Regions from separate parts of the Homo sapiens genome. Here regions 2 and 3 are each reported to be linked to region 1. The links are microRNA targets in miRTarBase. Many come from high-throughput screens and were not tested one by one. Region 1 holds a microRNA gene; each other region holds the end of a gene's coding sequence.

Evidence for each region. Region 1 holds the annotated microRNA hsa-miR-4684-5p (CUCUCUACUGACUUGCAACAUA, at 3,599-3,620, shown strand). A microRNA usually pairs through its seed, bases 2 to 8, with sites in the 3' UTR of a target mRNA and lowers its output. Matches are read on the target gene's strand: a 7mer-m8 pairs with bases 2 to 8, a 7mer-A1 pairs with bases 2 to 7 and ends in A, and an 8mer does both.
Region 2: miRTarBase lists ZNF528 as a target of hsa-miR-4684-5p. Seed matches in the 3' UTR shown: 7mer-m8 at 5,251-5,257, 7mer-A1 at 5,116-5,122 and 7mer-m8 at 4,883-4,889.
Region 3: the mRNA of DKK3 is a reported target of hsa-miR-4684-5p. The part of its 3' UTR that is shown has no 7-base or 8-base seed match.

What each region holds. Positions count from the first base shown.
Region 1 is chr1:22,715,932-22,722,931 of GRCh38, forward strand. MIR4684 (microRNA 4684) reads left to right here and starts at 3,586; the gene lies at 3,586-3,667. The region is part of intron 1 of EPHB2 (EPH receptor B2); the gene reads left to right. RefSeq lists an enhancer at 1,233-1,922.
Region 2 is chr19:52,415,924-52,423,054 of GRCh38, reverse strand. It overlaps ZNF528 (zinc finger protein 528), which reads right to left. Exons shown (of 7, transcript NM_032423.3): 7 at 4,654-7,131. The coding sequence ends at 6,316. Among named protein-coding and RNA genes, the nearest start is that of ZNF534, 9.7 kb to the left of the region's middle. RefSeq lists enhancers at 1,008-1,773, 1,774-2,539.
Region 3 is chr11:11,958,533-11,965,663 of GRCh38, reverse strand. It overlaps DKK3 (dickkopf Wnt signaling pathway inhibitor 3), which reads left to right. Exons shown (of 7, transcript NM_001018057.2): 7 at 978-2,628. The coding sequence ends at 1,200. USP47 (ubiquitin specific peptidase 47) reads right to left here. Exons shown (of 28, transcript NM_001282659.2): 28 at 3,777-7,131. Among named protein-coding and RNA genes, the nearest start is that of DKK3, 47 kb to the left of the region's middle.

The sequences.
Region 1 (7,000 bases):
ATTAAATGCTGGTCTCAACCCCTCTAAGGTCCTTCCCTCAATGATGGCGACGTGGCCCCCTTTTTGGCATTTAATTTGTCCAGGCACCAGATCAGCCTTCAGTGTCTCCCCTAACCCACCCCACAAGCTCCCAACTTCCCCCAGACTCGGGATGGTAACCCCCCAAGTGTGGACAGACTCAGACTCCATCCCTGCCTCTTTCTCCAGAGCCCCATCAGGGGAAAATACTCAGATTCCTAGTCCAGAGGGACTGTCATCTGGGGTCCCTAAGCCTCCTAAGTCCTGGGGATCTTTGTTCACCCTGAAATTGTCATAGAACATTGGATGGGCCCCCTCCCTCCTGTGGGATTGTCCTAGGCCCTACTTCCTCAAGGCTCTTCATCAGCGCCAAAGTGGGGACAGGTTCTTTTTTTTTTTCGAGATGGAGTCTCACTTTGTCACCCAGGCTGGAGCACAGTGGTGCCATCTCGGTTCACTGTAACCTCCGCCTCCCGGGTTCAAGCCATCTTCCCACCTCAGCCTCCGGAGTAGCTGGGACTACAGGCATGTGCCACTACACCCGGCTAATTTTTTTGCATTTTTAGTGGAGACGGGGCGGGGGTTCACCATGTTGACCAGGCTGGTCTCGAACTCCTGACCTCAAGTGACCCACCCACCTTGACCTCCCAAAGTGCTGGGATTACAGGCCTGAGCCACTGTGCCCTGCCTGGGACAGATTCTATGGGCCAGTTTGCTGGGCATTCAGCCCGTGGTAGCCTCTGGTCAACTCTGCCTGCCCAGAGCTCACCTGTGAGTTTAGACTGGAGACTGGACCTCTGCACATAGAAAGGCCCCTAACAGGAAGGGGCAGATGGAGCCTGCTGGTGACAGGATGCCTGGGCTGGGCAAGGCAGGGGACCCATGCTCCCACTGAGGGTGGCGGAGATGCAGAGCACGGTGGGCCTCCTGACGGGAGGATCTTCCACACCTCCGACCAAGGACCCGTCTCCTGACCTGGCACCTGCATGCCTGACTTAGCTGGAGATCTGGGAGATGGGGAACAAGGTTGGGGAGTCTGTATTTTTAACATACTCTCCAGGTCTTTCCATTAGGCAGGCAAATTTGCCCCCCAGCGGCCTATGATAAAACACAGGACTCCTGGGAAAGAGGAAGAGAAACCTCAGCAGGAAACTGGAAAAGACTGAAATGAAGTGAAATCAATCAGAGTTAGCGCCCACCAGCCCTGGCTGCCGCTGGCTCGTGCATAAAAAGAGGGTTAGCTGGGGGAAGGCAGGGAAGGAAAGAATGTTTGCACAGCTCCCAGGGGTGGGGCAGCAGGCCAGGCAGTTGTTGATTGTGGCAGCACCTGGAGGCTCCCTGATTGGGATCAGCTCAGGCCTTCTGATAAGGCTGCCTTGAAAGCATTTTAGGGCCTTTTAAAGCAGCTGCCTTCCGGAGGGTGCAGGAGGGGGACACCTGTCTCCCCAGTACCCCCGTGTCATCTGGGGGCTTGCCTAGGACACCCTCACTAGGTGAGCTTCCTGGAGCCATCTGCCCCCCTGCTGCAGCCCCTGTGGGGTGGGAGTGTCCTCAGAAGAGGGGACCTTGCCTGCTGTGTGGCCTTGACCAAGTGATCCACTCTCTGAGCCTCAGCTTCCTCATCTGGAAACTGGAGAATACCGCGCATGTGTCAGAGGCTCATGGCGAGGATTCAGTGAGATGCTGTGTACCATGACTGGCAGAACTGCCTGGCACTCAGCTGTGTCCATTCTTTATTAGTTTCCGTAACCATTAAATGTCAGCAGCACCCTCGTGCCCCTGGCCAGAATGACTTGTCCCTTTCTCTGAAGTCCTACAGAGGCTTTGCTTAGCCCTGATCACTTTCTCTCCTGTTCTATAAACAGCAGAGCCTGGGGGTTACAGGAAATGTGTGTGGAGTCAGACTGCTCCGTACTGTGTGTCCTCTGGCTTGTGTTTTCACCTCTCTGAGCCTTGGTTTCCTCATCTTTCAAATGGGGGTAATCATTGTTCCTAGCTCTTGAGATGGTTGTGAGCAATGGATGTGTTAATCTGAGGAAGACTAAGCTGAGTGTGTGCCTCAGGTGTGCTAAGCTTGCAATAAATGTGAACGGTTGCTATCCTTGCTTTCTACCAATGGGAAGCTCAATTCACAGTAGGGGAACAGGGGGCCAGTGTACCAGGTTTTTCATCTCCAGCTCTCCCCCACCCACTGTGTTCTGAGCCTTACAGGGCAAGGGTCTGACTGGCTTGCCAAGTAGCTGAGAGGCCCCTCCAGCCTGCCCACTCAGGGTACCATCCAGGTTTTCTCAAAGGCCCCCTCCCCACTCCAATTCAGCCTCCCTAATCTGGGAAAGGGGTAGACTCCTTCATGGCTGTACCCTCCTTCTTTGCCCAGTGCCTGCCAGGCACCACCTTCCCTGCCATGATCATGGGAATGGCTGTCAATTCTTTTTTTTTTTTTTTTTTTTTTTGAGACAGAGTATTGCTCTTGTTGCCCAGGCTGGACTGCAGTGGTGCAATCTCGGCTCACTGCAACCTCTGCCTCCCGGGTTCAAGAGATTTTCCTGCCTCAGCCTCCCTGAGTAGCTGGGATTACAGATGCCTGCCACCATGCCCGGCTAATTTTTTGTATATTTTAGTAGAGATGGGGTTTCACTATGTTGGTCAGGCTGGTCTCGAACTCTGACCTCAGGCGATCCACCTGCCTCGGCCTCCCAAAGTGCTGGGATTACAGGTGTGAGCCACCGCGCCCAGCAGCTGTCAATTCTTGTGCCAGACATTGTACTAACAGCATTATGTGTGTTGCCTTGTGCAGTTGCCCCAAGAGCCCCACAGGTCGTTGTATTATTGTGCCCATTTTACAGATGAGAAAACCAAAGCTCTGAGAGGAGTGACTGGCCCAAGGACACCTAGGGAGTGGTGAGGCAGCGATTGAAACCCAAGTCTGGTGACTCCAGAGCTCATGCTCTTCTCCACTTCTAGAATGTGCCTCCCTGCTCAGAGGAAAGGCTTGGCTCTGATGAGGGTCTCTAAGGCAGCTGTCCAGCTTCCAGCTCCATCAACATCCTGAGATAATGCAATGGGAGGGTTCTACAACTCACAAACCTGCCATAAAAATGCAATCTCTGTGATAATGGTCAGAATAATGTTGTTCTAACTTAGACAAATCGGGTGTTAACTCATTATGTTGTAAGGGGCGCCTCCACAGAGAATGGAGACTACGAAACAGTCACAGGGCCATTTGCAGCTTGTACTTCCAAATACAATAGCTCATCAGGCCTTCACAGCCATCCTGAAAGGGGCAGGAGCCACGGGGCCCACTTTAGAGATGAGGAAACTGAGGTCTGGGAGATAATATGACTCGCCCAAAGCCAGCAGCGGGACCAAGCTTGAAGCCCAGGGCCAATCTTAATAGCTCATCTATCCAGTTCAAATTCTTAGCCAACATTTGAAAATCAAGAGATTTTACAGAAAAGTCCTGTTTCTGGCGTTTCTGAAAAGTCAGACAATCTGGTTTCACAGGGCCCACATTCCCACATGGCCACAGTTGGCTGGAGTGACTGCCTCTTAAGACAGAATGTGTGAGCACCAGGGGTACCTCTCTACTGACTTGCAACATACATTTGTCTTGGTGTGTTGCAAGTCGGTGGAGACGTACCCTTGGTGCTCAACCCCTGTAAGGGCTTGAGTTTGCCTCCTGGATCTGCCCCTGTTACCCTGTGTGACCTGGAGTCAATTGCATGGCTTCCCGAGCCTCAGCTCTCTCTTCTATAAAATGACAGGGGTGAGACTCAGTGATTTTGGAGGCCTCTTCCAGCTCCAGGATTCAGTGCCCATTGCCAGGGTTCAGGGGTTCAGGCAAGGGAAGGGAGAGCTACAAAAAGTACAGGACTCCACTCCTGAAAAGCATATCACTTATCTTTAGCAAGCCACCACAAAACCTACTGGCTTAAAACAATAATGATTTCTTAGTTGTCCTGATTCAGTGGATTGGCTGGGCTCAGCTGGGTGCTTATTCTGTTCCCCGGGTTGTCAGTTGGGATCACTCAGGAGGCTGCACTCAGCTAGGTTGGGCTGGAAATTCCATCGTGGCTTCACATACATCTTTGAGGCCCTCATAGAGAAGGCTGGAAGGCTGGTCCCCCTACGCTCCTCGCTATCTCCCATCCTTTGCTAGTCTAGACTGCGCCTCTATCCATGGCAATTAGCTCCCAAGATGGTGAAATGGAAACTGCAAGGCTTCTTAAGGGCTGGGCTCTAATGTCACAAAGTGTCACCCCTGCAGCCTTCTGTGGTGGTCAAAGCCAGTCACAACACCAGCTCAGATTCATCCCAGGCTTCCTCATCAGGTTCAAGGAAAAGGAAAATATACTGGGCTTGATTTTTTTGTTTTATCCTTGAAGAGAAGTCCCATTTCTTGCTCAGCTGTTCAGCATGGAAAATTTAATGGTGGGTTATCCAGCGTCCCACTCAACATGTCCTGACCCACTGAATCAGGTGACACTCAGAGTTCAGTGCCCGCCCCTGCACCCTGTTGTTGTCCATGTTTCTTGGGCCAACCTGTGGTCCAAACTTGAATCTAGACGCCCCCTTACTGGGAGGAGTGGCTTCGTGTTTAGTAGGGGGAGGAATTGTTGGCAGCCATATTTGGAGACAGCCTCTCACAGGTAGTTTATCGTCCAGTCCAGGGATGGCGGTGGGGAGGCAACAGGAAGCCAGAAATCTCATTCCCCCCCCCCCCCGCCCCAGCACTTACCCCCGAATTGTCTTCAGTGTTATCTGCCTCTTCTGAGAAGGCAGGGACTTTCCACTTCACTATGTACAGCACAAGGCTTGGCTCATGATAGATATTAGATAGATGTTTGTGCAATAAACGAACCTAAAATTCATGAAAAATGGCAGCCTGGAGTTGTAGATATTCAAGACCTAGTATGAGGTGTGAGGCCAGAGAAAGGGGCCTTGGGCTGGTGGGATTGAACTGAAAAGATGGGTCCCTGGTGCTCCTGTGGCCTGGGGCAGGTCACTTCACCCCTCTAGGCCTCATTTTCCTTATCAGCGAACTGGGCATCATAATTTCAGGCACTACAGAAGGCTGTGCCGAGGAGTAACTGTGTTCTTCATTCTACTATGAAAGACCGGGTAAGGGGGTGACTGGTTGTCACTCCCACCTTGGCCAGAGGTCATCGCAGGAGTGGGGAAGCATTAGAGGAAAAGAAAAAATTCTAAAGGCATGGGCCAGTTATTGTCAAATTAAGTTTGGACCACAGGCTGGCCCCAGAGCACATGGAAATGTGTACAAACAGTGAAGTGAGTGGGTGGGACCACTGAGCTCTGAGCGTTGCTTCCAAAGACAGTTGAGGGGGACCTGGGCAACACATAGTCAAAGTTGACGCATTAAACCATTGAGCAAGAAATTGGCCTTCTGTTTGCTGGCAGACCAGGAAATCTGGCCTAACGTAATACCGGGAATAAATCACAAGAGTCTTGATCAGAGACTCCAGACTTGTGAGCTGGCCTGCGTTGTGAATGAGTGAGGTGACTTGACTGTTGGAAGTATAATAGTGCCCCCAGTAAGAGCGCATGTCCAGTCTAAAAAAGGCAGGTGCTACCCACTCCTGACCATGTTGTCACACAGGAATCTGTGTCCGGTTTTGCCACATCTTCTGATTTGCAAAGTTCTTTTTTTTCCTCTCTCTTTTTTCTTAGACAGGGTCTCACTCTGTCTCATAGGCTGGAGTGCAGTGACGCAATCGCAGCTCACTTAGCCTTGACCTCCTGGGCTCAAGCAATTCTCTCACCTCAGCCTCCCAAGTAGCTGGATCCATAGGCACCTGCCACCGCATCCAGCATTTTTTTTTTTTTTGTAGAGACAGAGTCTTTCACCATGTTGCCCAGGCTGGTCTTGAACTTGTGAACTCAAGCAGTCCTCCTTCTTCAGCCTCCCAAAGTGCTGGGATTACAGACATAAGCCATTGCGCCCAGCCTGATTTGCAAAGTTCTGATGCTTATGGGAAAACTGGTTTTTGTTTTGTTTTGTTTTGAGTCTCGCTCTGTTGCCTAAGCTGGAGTGCGGTGACACTATCTTGGCTCACTGCAACCTCTGCCTCCCAGGTTCAAGCAATTCTTGGGCCTCAGCCTCCTGAGTAGCTGGAACTACAATCATGTGCCACCACGCCTGGCTAATTTTTGTATTTTGAGTAAAGACAGGCACCTACCACCATGCCCAGCATTTTTTTTTTCTTTTTGGTAGAGACGGAGTCTTGCCATGTTGGCCAGGCTGGTCTCAAACTCCTGGCCTCAAGTGATCCACCTGCCTCAGCTTCCCAAATTGTTGGGATTACAGACGTGAGCCACCATGCCTGGTCTGAAAACTGGTTTTTGAATGTTTACTCATTTTATTCTAAAATACAGTTCTGGCCAAACCAAACCATGTTTGCTGGCTGGATTTGGCTCACTGGCTGGCAGTTTACAACCTTAGGTATTTGGGGTAAAGAAATAGCAAGGGTATTGTTAGCACCATTGTACAAATGGGGAAGTTGAGGTTCAATGACTTACTCAAGGTTACATAGCTGTTAGGCACTGGGAGGTGTTAAAACATGGCTCCTCACCTTGAAATGGGGAGTCTCTTTCCCTGTAACTTCCCTGCATGATCCCTGTTTTCCACGCTCCAGAACAATCCAGGAACGTAAGAGCCATCTTGCAGGCATCTGCCATGTTTGAAGGCAGAAAGCATGTCTTCCCTAGGTTTCTTCTTGAGGGAGGTAGAGTTGGCAGAATGAATGAAAAGCAGCGTGGTCTTAGACTAGAACCATGCTACGTTGGACCTCTGGCTCTGACACTTAACAGTGTTACCTTGGCCCTCTTAGCTCTTTGAGCCTCAGCTTCTTGAACTATACAATGAGGTTAGACAAGGCGTCCTGGAAGAGGCGACTTCTAAGATGATTCTTAAGGAAGAGCCAGGTGAAGAAGCAGCAAGGCAGCCATTCCAGGCAACAGGAAC
Region 2 (7,131 bases), not on the chromosome of region 1:
AGATCACACCACTGTACTCCAGCCTGGGCAACAGAGTGAGACTGTGTCTTAAAAAAAAGTCAAAGAAATACGTGCCAAACAAAACATTCATAGAACCATTATGTTAAAACTACAAAATGTTGATGAAAGAAATCAAAGACACCAAATACAGACACATATACAATATACATTTATTGGAAGACTCCACATAAAACAATATGAAAACAATATGAAATTATACCAAATTGACACATAGGGTTAACACATTTCCTAATCAGGGCATTCTGCAGATACTAACAAGGTTATCCAATTATGTAGAAAGGCAATGAAACAAAAAAAAGCCAAACCCCAAAATCTAAAATAGCTAAAACATCGGAATAACAACAGAAAGACTGGAATCACTTCATGTGATTTTAAGTCTTCTAACATAGTAAAAGCATTCTTTTCCTTTCTCGTATTTACAGGAATCCTAGTTCGTACTTCCCATTGTCTTGTGCGCATACTAATGTCACAACATTTTCTTTCCAAACAACAGCCATATTTATGTAGCCCGTAAATTTTCACTCAAGTAACACATGGAAGAAACGTATTAGACATGGAACCTGGACTGCAATTTATAAAAGATTTTTAATGTAACTCATATAAAGAAGCACAAAGTAAATTTTTTTTGACACAGTGTCTCCCTCTGTCATCCAGGCCGGAGTGCAGTGGTACAATCAAGGACGACAGCAGCCTCAGCCTTCTGGCATCAAACGATCCTCCTGCTGCAGTGCCCCTAAGTAGTTGGGACCACAAGTGTACATGACCACACCCGGCTATTTTTAAAATTTTTTTGTAGACATAAGCTCTTGCTATGTTGCCCAGGCTGGTCTTGAACTTCTGGGCTCAAGTGATTTCTCCCACCTTGGCCTCCCGAAGTGCTGAGATTACAGGTGAGCCACCCCCACTCAGCCTGAAAAAATTGCTTCATACCATAATCTGACAATGACATTTCCACAACTTTTGGCAAAATGCTCTTCTAGCAAAATCATATTTATTGTATAATAAATATAATTATATAATCAATAAACAATAAACAAATCATGTTGATTTTATAATAAACACTTTTGTACAATAATTTTCATTGAACTAGGATAAAACGTATCTCAGGCAACTTTTGTGGGGAAAAGAAAGAGAGATCGGATTGTTTCTGTGTAGAAAGAAGTAGACACAGGAGACTCCATTTTGTTCTGTACTAAGAAAAATTCTTCTGCCTTGAGATGCTGTTAATCTATGACCTTACCCCCAATCCCGTGCTCTCTGAAACATGTGCTGTGTCCACTCAGGGTTAAATGGATTAAGGGCTGTGCAAGATGTGCTTTGTTAAACAGATGCTTGAAGGCAGCATGCTCCTTAAGAGTCATCACCACTCCCTAATCTCAAGTACCCAGGGACACAAACACTGCGGAAGGCCGCAGGGACCTCTGCCTAGGAAAGCCAGGTATTGTCCAAGGTTTCTCCCCATGTGATAGTCTGAAATATGGCCTCGTGGGAAGGGAAAGACCTGACCGTCCCCCAGCCCGACACCCGTAAAGGGTCTGTGCTGAGGAGGATTAGTAAAAGAGGAAGGAATGCCTCTTTGCAGTTGAGACAAGAGGAAGGCATCTGTCTCCCGCCCGTCCCTGGGCAATGGAATGTCTCGGTATAAATCCCGATTGTATATTCCATCTACTGAGATAGGGGAAAACCGCCTTAGGGCTGGAGGTGGCACATGCGGGCAGCAATACTGCTCTGTAAGGCATTGAGATGTTTATGTGTATGCATATCTAAAGCACAGCACTTGATTCTTTACCTTGTCTATGATGCAGAGACCTTTGTTCACGTGTTTACCTGCTGACCTTCTCTCCACTATTATCCTATGACCCTGCCACATCCCCCTCTCTGAGAAACACCCAAAAATGATCAATAAATACTAAGGGAACTCAGAGGCTGGCGGGATCCTCCATATGGTGAACACTGGTCCCCTGGGGCCCCCTTATTTCTTTCTCTATACTTTGTCTCTGTGTCTTTTTCTTTTCCAAGTCTCTCGTTCCACCTAACAAGAAACACCCACAGGTGTGGAGGGGCAACCCACCCCTTCACCTTTACTAGACACTTTACTAAACAGTAATTCACAAGCATTTTCAACAATCATAGGTGCAGTGAAACCTACACGTCCATCCGAGAGGAATGTAACCAGCTATCACCATGAAGAAAACTGGGGTTTTTCCTAACCAAGAAGTCAGGAGTTTCAAGAAGAAGTATTTAGTCTTGTACTAAAGAGTTAGACTACATTTTGTGATGTCTGAATACTAACAGCTTTTACACCTCTGCATTCCTTCTTCCTATGAAAGGAGGTAGTTAACTTGCCTTAGGTAGATAGCAAGAAAAGGGTCTCTGGAGAGTCCCTGGCCCATGGGTCAGTGCCTCATCCCCACCTAACAGAAAAAGCAGCCTGGGAAAAAATTCAAGGTGCAGGGACCGATAAGGGAACTAGCACAAGGTGTTATGCCTACGGCTGCACAGATGGAAAAGGCCCATTTGGATAAAAACTTGCACAGACCTCCATCTCACTCAGATAAGGGAGCAGGCCTGGCACAGAAATGCCTTTTGCCTTTGTAGAGTCAGTGGGCTCCCAGGCAAAAGTTTCTTCTCCCTTTGTGGACATGGGCACAGTGGGCTCCAATAAGTTCAGGTGCTCCAATAAGTTCAGGTTCCTTTATTGGACTGTAAGTCTGGCTTCTATGAATCATCACTTCAGCCCCTAATTGGTCCTGGGCCAAGCTTTCACTTCAGCTTCTAATAGGTCCCGGGCCAAGCTGAGGCATGCATTCTCCAAGACAGCCCGCAGACTAAGCACATTCCTTCCCCTTTCCAGTCCATAAAAACCCCAATACGGACCTCATAGTGAGTACTCCTGTTCAGGAGCCCCTCTCTGCTGGCAGACAGCTTTCTCCTCTTGCTTATTAAACTTTCGCTCCAAACTCACTTTTATGTCCACACTCCTTTTCTTGGAGGTAGGACAAAGAACCCAAAGTGTTATCTCAAATGAGAGACTGTTACATCTTGGTGCATTGCTGAGACTACATTATGATGCCCATCTGGTCAACTGATAATAAAGCCTGAGTGCTCCCTCATTTGGCACCAGGTATTAGTTCAAACCACAAGTAAGTACCCACACCCCAGCCCGACGCTTCAACAATCATAACACCCAAAGTAGTCATCTATCCCAGTTTTCTCATGACATTTTTGGACCAACTGGGGAAGTCTAACCTGCTTTCCTCAGAAAGTCTTATTATGTAATAAACATTCTCAGACCCCTTCAGTACATAGCATCATCAGTCTCAATACCCAAGCCAAATCTTAGGTGGACGTCAAACAAGTTCTAGTGGAGGCCAGGTACATGGCTCATGCCTGTAATCCTAGCACTTTGGGAAGCTGAGGTGGGTGGGTCATTTGAGCCCAAGAGTTGGAGACCAGCTGGGCAACACTGTGACCAAAAAACACCCCAAAATTAGCTGGGTGTGGTGGTGTGCGCCTGTAGTCACAGCTATTCATGAGGCTAAAGTGGGAGGATCACTTGAGCCGGGGAGGTTGAGGCTGCAGTGAGCCCTAACTGTGCCACTGCACTCCAGCCTGTGCAACAAAGACCCTGTCTCAAATTTAAAAAAAAAAAAACTTTTTTTGTAAGGTTCTAGTGGAGTAGGCAAAAGTTCAAATTACCACAAAGGTTGTGGGGGTAAATATGTGAAGTTCCTTGTTAAAATACCAAAGCAAAACACAATTCCATTCTGTGTGTCCACCCTTACGAGGAAATTTATGAACATTAGTAATTTCAAATTATGTCACTGAGCACAAGGACAAAAAAAGAGATTGTGTTACACTATTTTTAACCTTATCCTCACACTTTTATCTCATAATATTTGTCATATTTGTATTTTTGCTTCATAAAAATGAAAGTGTGGGCCAGGCACAGTGGCTCAAGCCTATAATCCCAGCACTTTGGGAGGCCAAGGTGGGTGGATCGCCTGAGGTTGGGTGTTTGAGACCAGCCTGGCCAACATGGTGAAACCCTGTCTCTACTAAAAATACAAAAAAATTAGCCAGGACTGGTGGCAGATGCCTGTAATCTCAGCTACTCGGGAGGCTGAGGCAGAAGAATTGCTCGAACCCAGGAGGTGGAGGTTGCAGTGAGTCAAGATCGCGCCATTGCACTCCAGCCTGGGTGACAGAGCAAGACTCTCAAAAAAAAAAAAAAAAAAAAAAAAAGAGAGAATGTGTGCCATGGGTCTAATTTAGCACACAAGAAAAAGGCACATAGAAATATAATGATACACTAAACATTTGCCAAGGGCTATAAACACATTTGAGGGTATAGGATGCTGGAGTTGCACTGCTTTGGGACTTTCACTGTACCCACAGAAGCATTCTAGGGCAGAGCACAGATACAATAATTCAAGTACTAAGTATGATTACTCATATTCACACTTACCTAAGGATATGTAACCAAAGGACATGTTTCATTTCACAACCAGAAAACTTGCTCTGGATGCTCCAATCTTAAAATCCCAATGGTGCATTACTGTGTGCTACAGAGTATCCATCCTCCTGAGGTGGGATGAAATTATGACGGTAGAAAACACGATTCATTCATACTTAGGAAAAATGAAACTTTATTACTACAAACATGAGAGCTGCATACATTCTAAATCAAATGGTTGCAACTTATAATACCAAGAATTAAATGTGAATCCTACTTAAGAATATGCTGAGCTGGCCAGGTGTGGTGGCTCACGCCTGTAATCCTAGCACTTTCAGGCTGAGGCAGATGGATCGCCTGAGGTCAGGAGTTTGAGACCAGTGTGGCCAACGTGGTGAAACCCCATCTCTACTAAAAATACAAAAATTAGCTGGGTATGGTGGTACACGCCTGTAATCCCAGCTACTTGGGAGGCTGAGGCAGGAGAATTGCTTGAACCCGGGAGGCGGAGGTTGCAGTGAGCCGAGATCGCGCCACCGCACTACAGCCTGGGTGACAAGGGCGAAACTCTGTCTCATCTAAAAAAAGAATATGCTGATCCGGTCATTTTGATTAAACTCTCAACTGTGATATAACTGTTCTCTATTCCATTTCAAAAATGAGGCTGGGCACCATGGTTCATGCCTGTAATCCCAGCACTTTGGGAGGCTGAGGTGAACATATCACTTGAGGTCAGGAGTTGGAGACCTGCCTGGCCAACATGGTAAACACTGTCTCTACTAAAAATACAAAAATGAACTGGGTGTGGTGGCGCACGTCTGTAGTCTCAGCTACTTAGGAGGCTAAGGCAGAAGGACTGCTTGAGCCCAGGAGGCGGAGGGTGCAGTGAGCCAAGAACACACCACTACACTCCAGCCTGGGCAACAGAGTGAGACTCTATCTCCAAAAAAAAAAAAGTCTACTTCTCATCAGTCTTTGCTAAACAGCAGGTACTGCTGTTCAATGGAGAAGGTGGCTACCTTTTTCCTTGCATTATTTCTACCATATAATCAGACACTAGCAACCTATTACTCTCTTCCCACTAATAACCTATGCCTTAAGATTACAGCATACTCTATTTCATGGTCAGTTGGTGGACACTGAAGCTCTGTGCACTTATGTCAGGAGAAAGTGTGCTAACTGCAACAGTATGATGACGGTCATCAGTTTTATGTTACTCTGCCCACCTCCATGCTCTCTAAATCAGACAATATTTAATCTCAAAAGGCAATGTCCTTCATCAGGAAATTGGATAGAAATAATCCTCAGCTAATGAAGTCAGCCCTGTCATCCTACTGATTCTTTCCCAGGGACCACAGTGAATGGCCTGTATGGAAGGCACATGAAAAGATTTCGAAGTCACAAAGAGTAAAGTAGCCTTTTCTATAAGCCCCAAATAATTGAATGCTTTATAGCCTGAATAAAACTGGTCATTTACAAGCCGTTGCACCTTTGATATACATCAGGTCATGAGATTCAACATATTTTGACTTAGCATTATTCTGCATCATGCAATATCATAGATTAGTATCAGAGAACCAGAGACAGAGTTACTTCTTGTGTAAATCCTATCGTGTTCTATAGCAATGGTCCTTGAATAATAGCCCAAGTACACACAATTCATCTGTGTGCTTTCATCCTCCACAGTGATGTGGTGATGTCCAGTGATTTGGCAGGCCTTGATAAAGCCTGTGTCACATACATTTCATTTATATGATTTCCACTTAGTATGGACTCACTGATGTTGATTAATGCTAGAACTCATGATGATGGTTTTGCCATACAGTTTGTAGGGACTCTCATGAATGAACTCTCTGATGCTGTGCAAGGTCAGAATTGTGACTGAAGACCTTACTGCACAGGGTGCATTTGTAAGGTTTCTCTCCAATGTGAATTCTATGGTGATTGGTGAGGGAAGACTTCTGAGTGAAGATCTTGCCACATTCTTTACACTCATGAGATTTCTTTTCAGTATGGATTGCAAGATGGGCAGTAAGGCCTGAACACCCTCGAAATGCTTTGCCACATTTACTACATCTGTAAGGCCTCTCTCCAGTATGAATTATTTGATGTCTTGTAAGGTATGATGCTTGATTAAAGACCTTGCCACATTGATTACATTTGTAAGGCTTTTCTCCTGTATGAATTTTCTGATGGCATACCAGGTTTGAACTGCGACTGAAGACCTTGCCACATCTGTTACATTTGTAAGGCTTCTCTCCAGTATGAATTCTATGATGACTGGTTAGAGAAGACTTGTACCTGAAGACTTTGCCACATTCTTTACATTCATAAGGTTTCTCTCCACTATGGATTAGAAAATGGGCAGTAAGGTCTGAAAACTCTCTAAACGCTGTGCCACATTTATTACATTTGTAAGGCTTCTCATCAGTATGAGTTTTTCGATGTCGTATAAGGTCTGATTTCTGACTAAAGATCTTGCCACACTGACTGCATCCATAAGGTCTCTCTCTAGTATGAATTCTCTGATGAGAGGTCAGGAAACACTTGCGCCCAAAGACCTTGTCACATTCTTTACATTTGTAAGGTTTCCTTCCAGTGTGAATTAACTGATGGGTTATGAGGCTGGAACGCACTGAAAATGCTTTGCCACA
Region 3 (7,131 bases), not on the chromosome of region 1:
TGGAAGGGTCCAATCAGCAGTCGGTTCTAGGGGTCTGGAGCCCAGGCTGCCCAGGAGGCACAGATCTGGGGCTCATCTAGCTGGTGGCTGAAGCTTCATGAGTGGATGGTCCATGGAGAGGACATGGAGGGAGAAAAGCCTGGGCTCCCTCCCCAGACCTGTCACAATGACAGATAAGCAGAGAAAAAGGAGCTGGCAGAGAGGCCACGGGGAGGCCAGGAGTGGCCACCAAGGTGGAGGGTGCAGCCCACACTGTCTGAGGCTGCTGAGACTCCATGAGGCATGAGGCTCAAGCCTGGCCAGCTTCTCAGGGCACATCTCCCTGTCCTCCCCGCAGCCTCTACTCAGTCTTCTCTCCCAACAGAATCCAGGGCTGCTGGGCAGACAGGCAGAACTCCCATTCCCCACGGCTCTGTGCAGTGGCTCACACCTGTAATCCCAGAGCTTTGGGAGGCCAATGCAGGAGGATTGCTTGAGGCCAAGAGTTCAAGACCAGCCTGGGCAACATAGGGAGATCCCGTCTCTACCAAACACATTAATTTTTTTTAAAAAAAGGAATTCTTCCTCCCTATTCCCACAGAGGTCCATGGCTCCCTGCATGTGGCTAGACTACACCCCAGAGTCAGGCTGACTCCTGCCTGGAGGCCCGAATGGGCCACAGTCTTTGAGGGGCTGTGGTGCTGCTACATAGCACTCAGGTCCTGCCCCTGGGCTGCGGGGCCTGAGAGTCACAGGAGGTCAGGCCTGCGCTGGAGGAGGGGAAGCTGCCCCCCACCAGCACATTCTCCCAAAGTGAGCCTCCCTCAGCCATCATTTTAAGATAGATGTTGACGGGAAGTGAAGTGTCTCTGTTGAAGAGACAGGAGAGGAGGGGGCATGAAGGTGAGGCTGGGAGCCCCACAGAGTCAGGGCGCCTTAGCTTTCGGCCTGGGCAGGCTCCCACGTTTAGAGCCTGGCTTTGTCCCATCTCTCCCCAGCCACAGCCTGGTGTATGTGTGCAAGCCGACCTTCGTGGGGAGCCGTGACCAAGATGGGGAGATCCTGCTGCCCAGAGAGGTCCCCGATGAGTATGAAGTTGGCAGCTTCATGGAGGAGGTGCGCCAGGAGCTGGAGGACCTGGAGAGGAGCCTGACTGAAGAGATGGCGCTGAGGGAGCCTGCGGCTGCCGCCGCTGCACTGCTGGGAGGGGAAGAGATTTAGATCTGGACCAGGCTGTGGGTAGATGTGCAATAGAAATAGCTAATTTATTTCCCCAGGTGTGTGCTTTAGGCGTGGGCTGACCAGGCTTCTTCCTACATCTTCTTCCCAGTAAGTTTCCCCTCTGGCTTGACAGCATGAGGTGTTGTGCATTTGTTCAGCTCCCCCAGGCTGTTCTCCAGGCTTCACAGTCTGGTGCTTGGGAGAGTCAGGCAGGGTTAAACTGCAGGAGCAGTTTGCCACCCCTGTCCAGATTATTGGCTGCTTTGCCTCTACCAGTTGGCAGACAGCCGTTTGTTCTACATGGCTTTGATAATTGTTTGAGGGGAGGAGATGGAAACAATGTGGAGTCTCCCTCTGATTGGTTTTGGGGAAATGTGGAGAAGAGTGCCCTGCTTTGCAAACATCAACCTGGCAAAAATGCAACAAATGAATTTTCCACGCAGTTCTTTCCATGGGCATAGGTAAGCTGTGCCTTCAGCTGTTGCAGATGAAATGTTCTGTTCACCCTGCATTACATGTGTTTATTCATCCAGCAGTGTTGCTCAGCTCCTACCTCTGTGCCAGGGCAGCATTTTCATATCCAAGATCAATTCCCTCTCTCAGCACAGCCTGGGGAGGGGGTCATTGTTCTCCTCGTCCATCAGGGATCTCAGAGGCTCAGAGACTGCAAGCTGCTTGCCCAAGTCACACAGCTAGTGAAGACCAGAGCAGTTTCATCTGGTTGTGACTCTAAGCTCAGTGCTCTCTCCACTACCCCACACCAGCCTTGGTGCCACCAAAAGTGCTCCCCAAAAGGAAGGAGAATGGGATTTTTCTTTTGAGGCATGCACATCTGGAATTAAGGTCAAACTAATTCTCACATCCCTCTAAAAGTAAACTACTGTTAGGAACAGCAGTGTTCTCACAGTGTGGGGCAGCCGTCCTTCTAATGAAGACAATGATATTGACACTGTCCCTCTTTGGCAGTTGCATTAGTAACTTTGAAAGGTATATGACTGAGCGTAGCATACAGGTTAACCTGCAGAAACAGTACTTAGGTAATTGTAGGGCGAGGATTATAAATGAAATTTGCAAAATCACTTAGCAGCAACTGAAGACAATTATCAACCACGTGGAGAAAATCAAACCGAGCAGGGCTGTGTGAAACATGGTTGTAATATGCGACTGCGAACACTGAACTCTACGCCACTCCACAAATGATGTTTTCAGGTGTCATGGACTGTTGCCACCATGTATTCATCCAGAGTTCTTAAAGTTTAAAGTTGCACATGATTGTATAAGCATGCTTTCTTTGAGTTTTAAATTATGTATAAACATAAGTTGCATTTAGAAATCAAGCATAAATCACTTCAACTGCTCTTCTGTAGTTCTTGGATTTCTTTTCCCTTTTGACTTTGAATAAATGTAAAATCCTTTCAGCCAGAAAAAGTAAAATAGAAACAACCTGTATTAAAAATCTTCCATAGAAGCAAATTTGCCACCCAACTGAAGCACACCTCTTTCAGCATCAAAATATTTTAGAAATCTTAACTATTTTTGGATGGGAATTTGTCTTAAAGAGTGTAAATGCTTCACGGCCTTCTGAAAGGACAAATGGAATATGTATGACTCTTTTTTTAGGGGAGCCTTCTTTAATCAAATGCAGTTCTGGGCCATAAGACAGTAAGATCCTCAAGGACCATAATATTAGAGCTACTATATTGAAGTCAGCTGCGTGGCAAGTGCCAGATTAGGCAGTCTACCTATATTCATTCATTTAATCTTCACTGAACTCCATGAGCATTTTCTTCATTTCACAGATGAACAAATGGAGGTGCAAAGAGATTGACAGAGTAGAAGTCAGACAAAAACAGCATCTAGTACAGTATGTCCAGGTTATAGTGATTATTTTAAGATCAAATAGGGAGCTGTTTTCTATTCAATGTCAGAAACCATCAGGACCACCCTACATTCTGGTTACTCAACAGATATCTACTGAGAGCCTCCTCAGAATCAGGTGCTGTGGTACGCTTTGGGGTGCCAAGCTGACCCAGATAGGGTCCCTACCTTGAAGGCATCCCAGTCTAATGAGGGAGACACAGCCAGAGCAAGCAATGACAAAACAAAGACAGTCAACCCGATGTGGGAACAGAGGTGTTACGGAAGCCTCAGTGGAGCACTTGGGGAGAGCTGGCATGGGAACTGGCTCTTGAAGATGATAGGAGTTTATCAGGAAGCCAGAGGGCACAGGAAAGGGCTTTCTGGGCCATGGGCAGAGGGAGGGAGGCACAAGGGTCAGGTGCCATGTAGGGGAAACTGCAAGTCATTTGCAGTGGCTGGAAGGCAAGGAAAGCTTGAGGAAGCATTTAGAGAAGAGGCTAAAAATTATGTCATCCAAAAAATGATTGAAAACATTGTGGTAAATGAGATAAAACTAGGTCCCCCATAGTTGTATATGTAGATATAGTAGGCTGCTCCATTTTGTCATGATAGCCACAAACTTGTAAGAACACGAGAGGCTTTGCAAAATACTTAGCTGAAGCCAGCATCTGAGTAGCATCTGAGTGTCTCCTTTACTCAGTCCTGAGTGAAATGTGGGAGGGGCTGGGTGGAGGTGGTGCTTGAATACCTTGCTGCTGCTCTCTCCCAAAGCCAGAGTTCCTGCCAAGCCATGGCAGATGCCGTCAGGTAAACTGCTCAACAGCTGTTCTCAGTCCCTCCAGCAGCTAGGGCTGGCCCCATGACCCAGGAAATGTAAGGGGAGGGCTCCCAGAGTTTCTGGAATTTTTTCCCAATTGACAAAAGGAGAGTGGCAAACAAGAATGGAGCTCCTGCCCTCCATCCACTTCCCCTGCCTTTGAGTATGGTGCTCAGGAAGCGACATTTGGCTCTGGGGCAGCCATCTGGTGATCATGTGATCAACAGGGCTGCATTCCTCTGGAGGCTCTGGGGAGAGTCCATTTCCTTGCTGTTTTTTAGCCTCTATAGGTCACTGGCATTCCTTGGCTCATGGGCCCCTTCATCTTCAAATCCTGCAATGACAGTTCTGTCCTTCTCAGGTGCCAGCTCTCTGGCTTTCTACAGGTGGGAAAGGTTCTCCACTTCTGGGGACCCATGTGATCAAATTGCGCCCACCTAGATAATCCAGAATAATCTTCCCACGTCAAGGTCCTTAACCTTAATTGCATCTGCAAAATCTCTTTTGCCCTGTCAGGTAAATAATCACAATCTTCCCACGTCAAGGTCCTTAACCTTAATTGCATCTGCAAAATCTCTTTTGCCCTGTCAGGTAAATAATCACAGGATACAGGGTTTAGGATGTGGCCCTACCACAGAAAGAGTCTTTGAGTCCTTGACATTGAGGAGGAAACCAATCCTGTTCTCCACCATCTCTGGACACCTTAAGTAAACCACCGATATTATTATTGATAAAGCTGGTGTTAGCTTTTCTGTTATTTGAAGCCAAAAAGCATTTCTGACACAGGAGCTATTTGCATGATGAACCATAGCCTGCAGGAGAACAAAGCCCAACTGGTTCTCTGGGCCTGTGGGGAGGGAGGATGAGGTTGAAGAGGGAAGGGAGGGGCCTGCTGTAGTGTGAGGGACAAAGACAGGAAGAGAAAAAAGGCATTAGGTATTCCTGTGGTCTGCACATCCTCTCCAGATACTCAAGAAATGCAATTCAACTATTTGGAGATTACTTTTTGATAGCTATGCTTGGTTTCTAAATGCAGCTAGGCCCCTGCACACAGGGCTTGCTGAAAGTGGCCACCTCAGCAGCAGCAGCACAATTGCCCTGTATAAAGATGACCAAGGGAGGGTGAAATCCCCTTTTGGGAGATTGTGGTGTTTGGAAAACAGATTCTTCCCCTCCCTGACACTCCGTTGAGGGAGGAGAGGTTAGATTTTATTCCCTTGGCTGAAACTTCTGAGGGGAACTTTTTGAGACACTCATGGAAGATCAAATTGAGGGTTGAAGACTTGGTAGGGACTAGTGCAGCATGGGATAGTGGTATTCACTGCAGAGAAGTGTCTGCCAGCAGGAGGCTGGCAAGACACTGTCAAATTTCATGAGGGAGCACCAATGCTGTTAGGAGTTGGGTCCTTTGCTGATAGGACCTGCAGGGCATCTACCTTCATGTCTACAAAAAAGTTACTAGTGACCAGGCACAAGGGGACAGTAACCTTACCAGCCTCATTGCTAAGAAGTGGTTAGCACATGTCTTCCCCCCGCTCTTCCTGGCCTCTTCCACCACCAGTCAAGCTGGTGCAGGAGTTGGCAGGGACAGCACATCTTGGAGGCACTATGGAGGTTCAGGGGAGCTTTGAATGAAACCACTGAACTTTAAGATAAGATTGTCTTAATAATGCAAAATGACTTAAAAGTCACAGGATTGCACTGAGCACTTGATAAGCCCACTGCCCAGTGGGTAACTGCATTTGACAAAACAATTGGCACAGTTATGAAAAAAATGTAAGCATTGAGTATTTTTATCTCCATAAATTATACTCTTCAAGCAGGTTACTTAAGCATTATAAAAGAGGCTGAAAACAGGTGGGGAGAGGGCAGGTGGGAAACATGGAAAGCAGAGGGAAGGGGAGCTTGGTGCCCACCTGTGAGGCAAGGTTTTAGGGTCCAATAACAATTTCTGACCTGGTGAGCTGACACTCAGTTGAGATCAATTCTCTTGTACAGGTGAGCTGGTGAGGAGGTGGAAAGGGGCAGTGCTGTGATGGGGAAGGGGCAGAGCATTCCTCTCAACTCTCTTTTGCCCTCCTAGCTTGACCTACTGATGGCTGCACTCTTTTCTAAATAGTAACACATGCTCCAATGCATGCTTGAGTTTGTGCAGTATTCTTGTTTCTGAAAGTCAAGTTGTGACAATTAATGCTGTATCTAACCAAATGATCACAGCCTCCCTCTTCCCCATGGGAACTACAATCAAGAAGCATCTTCCAATTTCATGTACACTAAACCTAGGTGGCCACAAGCTTCATTTGGGCCATGAACTCCTTTGAAACCCTCATAAAAACTGTCCTACTATCTCCCTGGTAAATCGCACATACACAGAGTTTTGCCTTTCAGGACATATGGCCTTATAAGATTTTGACTACTAGTGACCAAAATGTTGATGTTTTTCAAAAATTACACAGAATTGTTAAGATGGAATAGTTTTATTCAGCAAACAAAAAACTTGCTAATTCAGAGTATCCTCTAGTCCACGTAATGTGGTTTAGACTACATTTGCAAAATTAGGGCCTTGACGCTGAACAAAATAAAATCCAGAGGAAGAACTACAGTATCCAATCAAAAAGGAAGTACTAGCAAATGAACCAGAATAAAAGACTTTATTGTATTCCATACATTCACAGGTCACTTCCAGATTTAGTAACAACACTGCAATGCTATGATGCTGTGCGGTCATTTAGCTTAAACCACAGTGTAAGTTGGTAGCTCTCTCCTGCTCTCTTGGCCTCTAGATGTATCACAATACAATTCCTAACTGTGGCCTGGCAACCAATGCTTATTTCATTGGATTATTTTCTGACTGGGACATGAGTTCATCGCATCTTCCCAGAATTTTAAAGTACCTTCCCTTACATTATAAGAGATGACCAAACACTCTAGTGTGAAGGCTGCTTCACACACTGTTCTTATCTATCATGATTGCTCTTCCTTACATACACGTCCCGTACAGATCAGCTACACACGGCATGGTCCTGAAACCACAGCTTTTGTTTCTTTGGCCAGAATGCACCCCTCACCTTGAGTGCCCGCCTTAGAAACACAGGTACTTGGTTCTCACAGGGTGTGCATGGTTGACACAAGTTCATCTGCCCCACGGTAAAAGCTCTTCAAAACCTTTGCATGACTTGTGGGGAGCAGGGTCACAATTTGTTGCATGTGACCTGCCTCAGCCTCAAAAGATAAGAGATCATGAGGCTCCACCG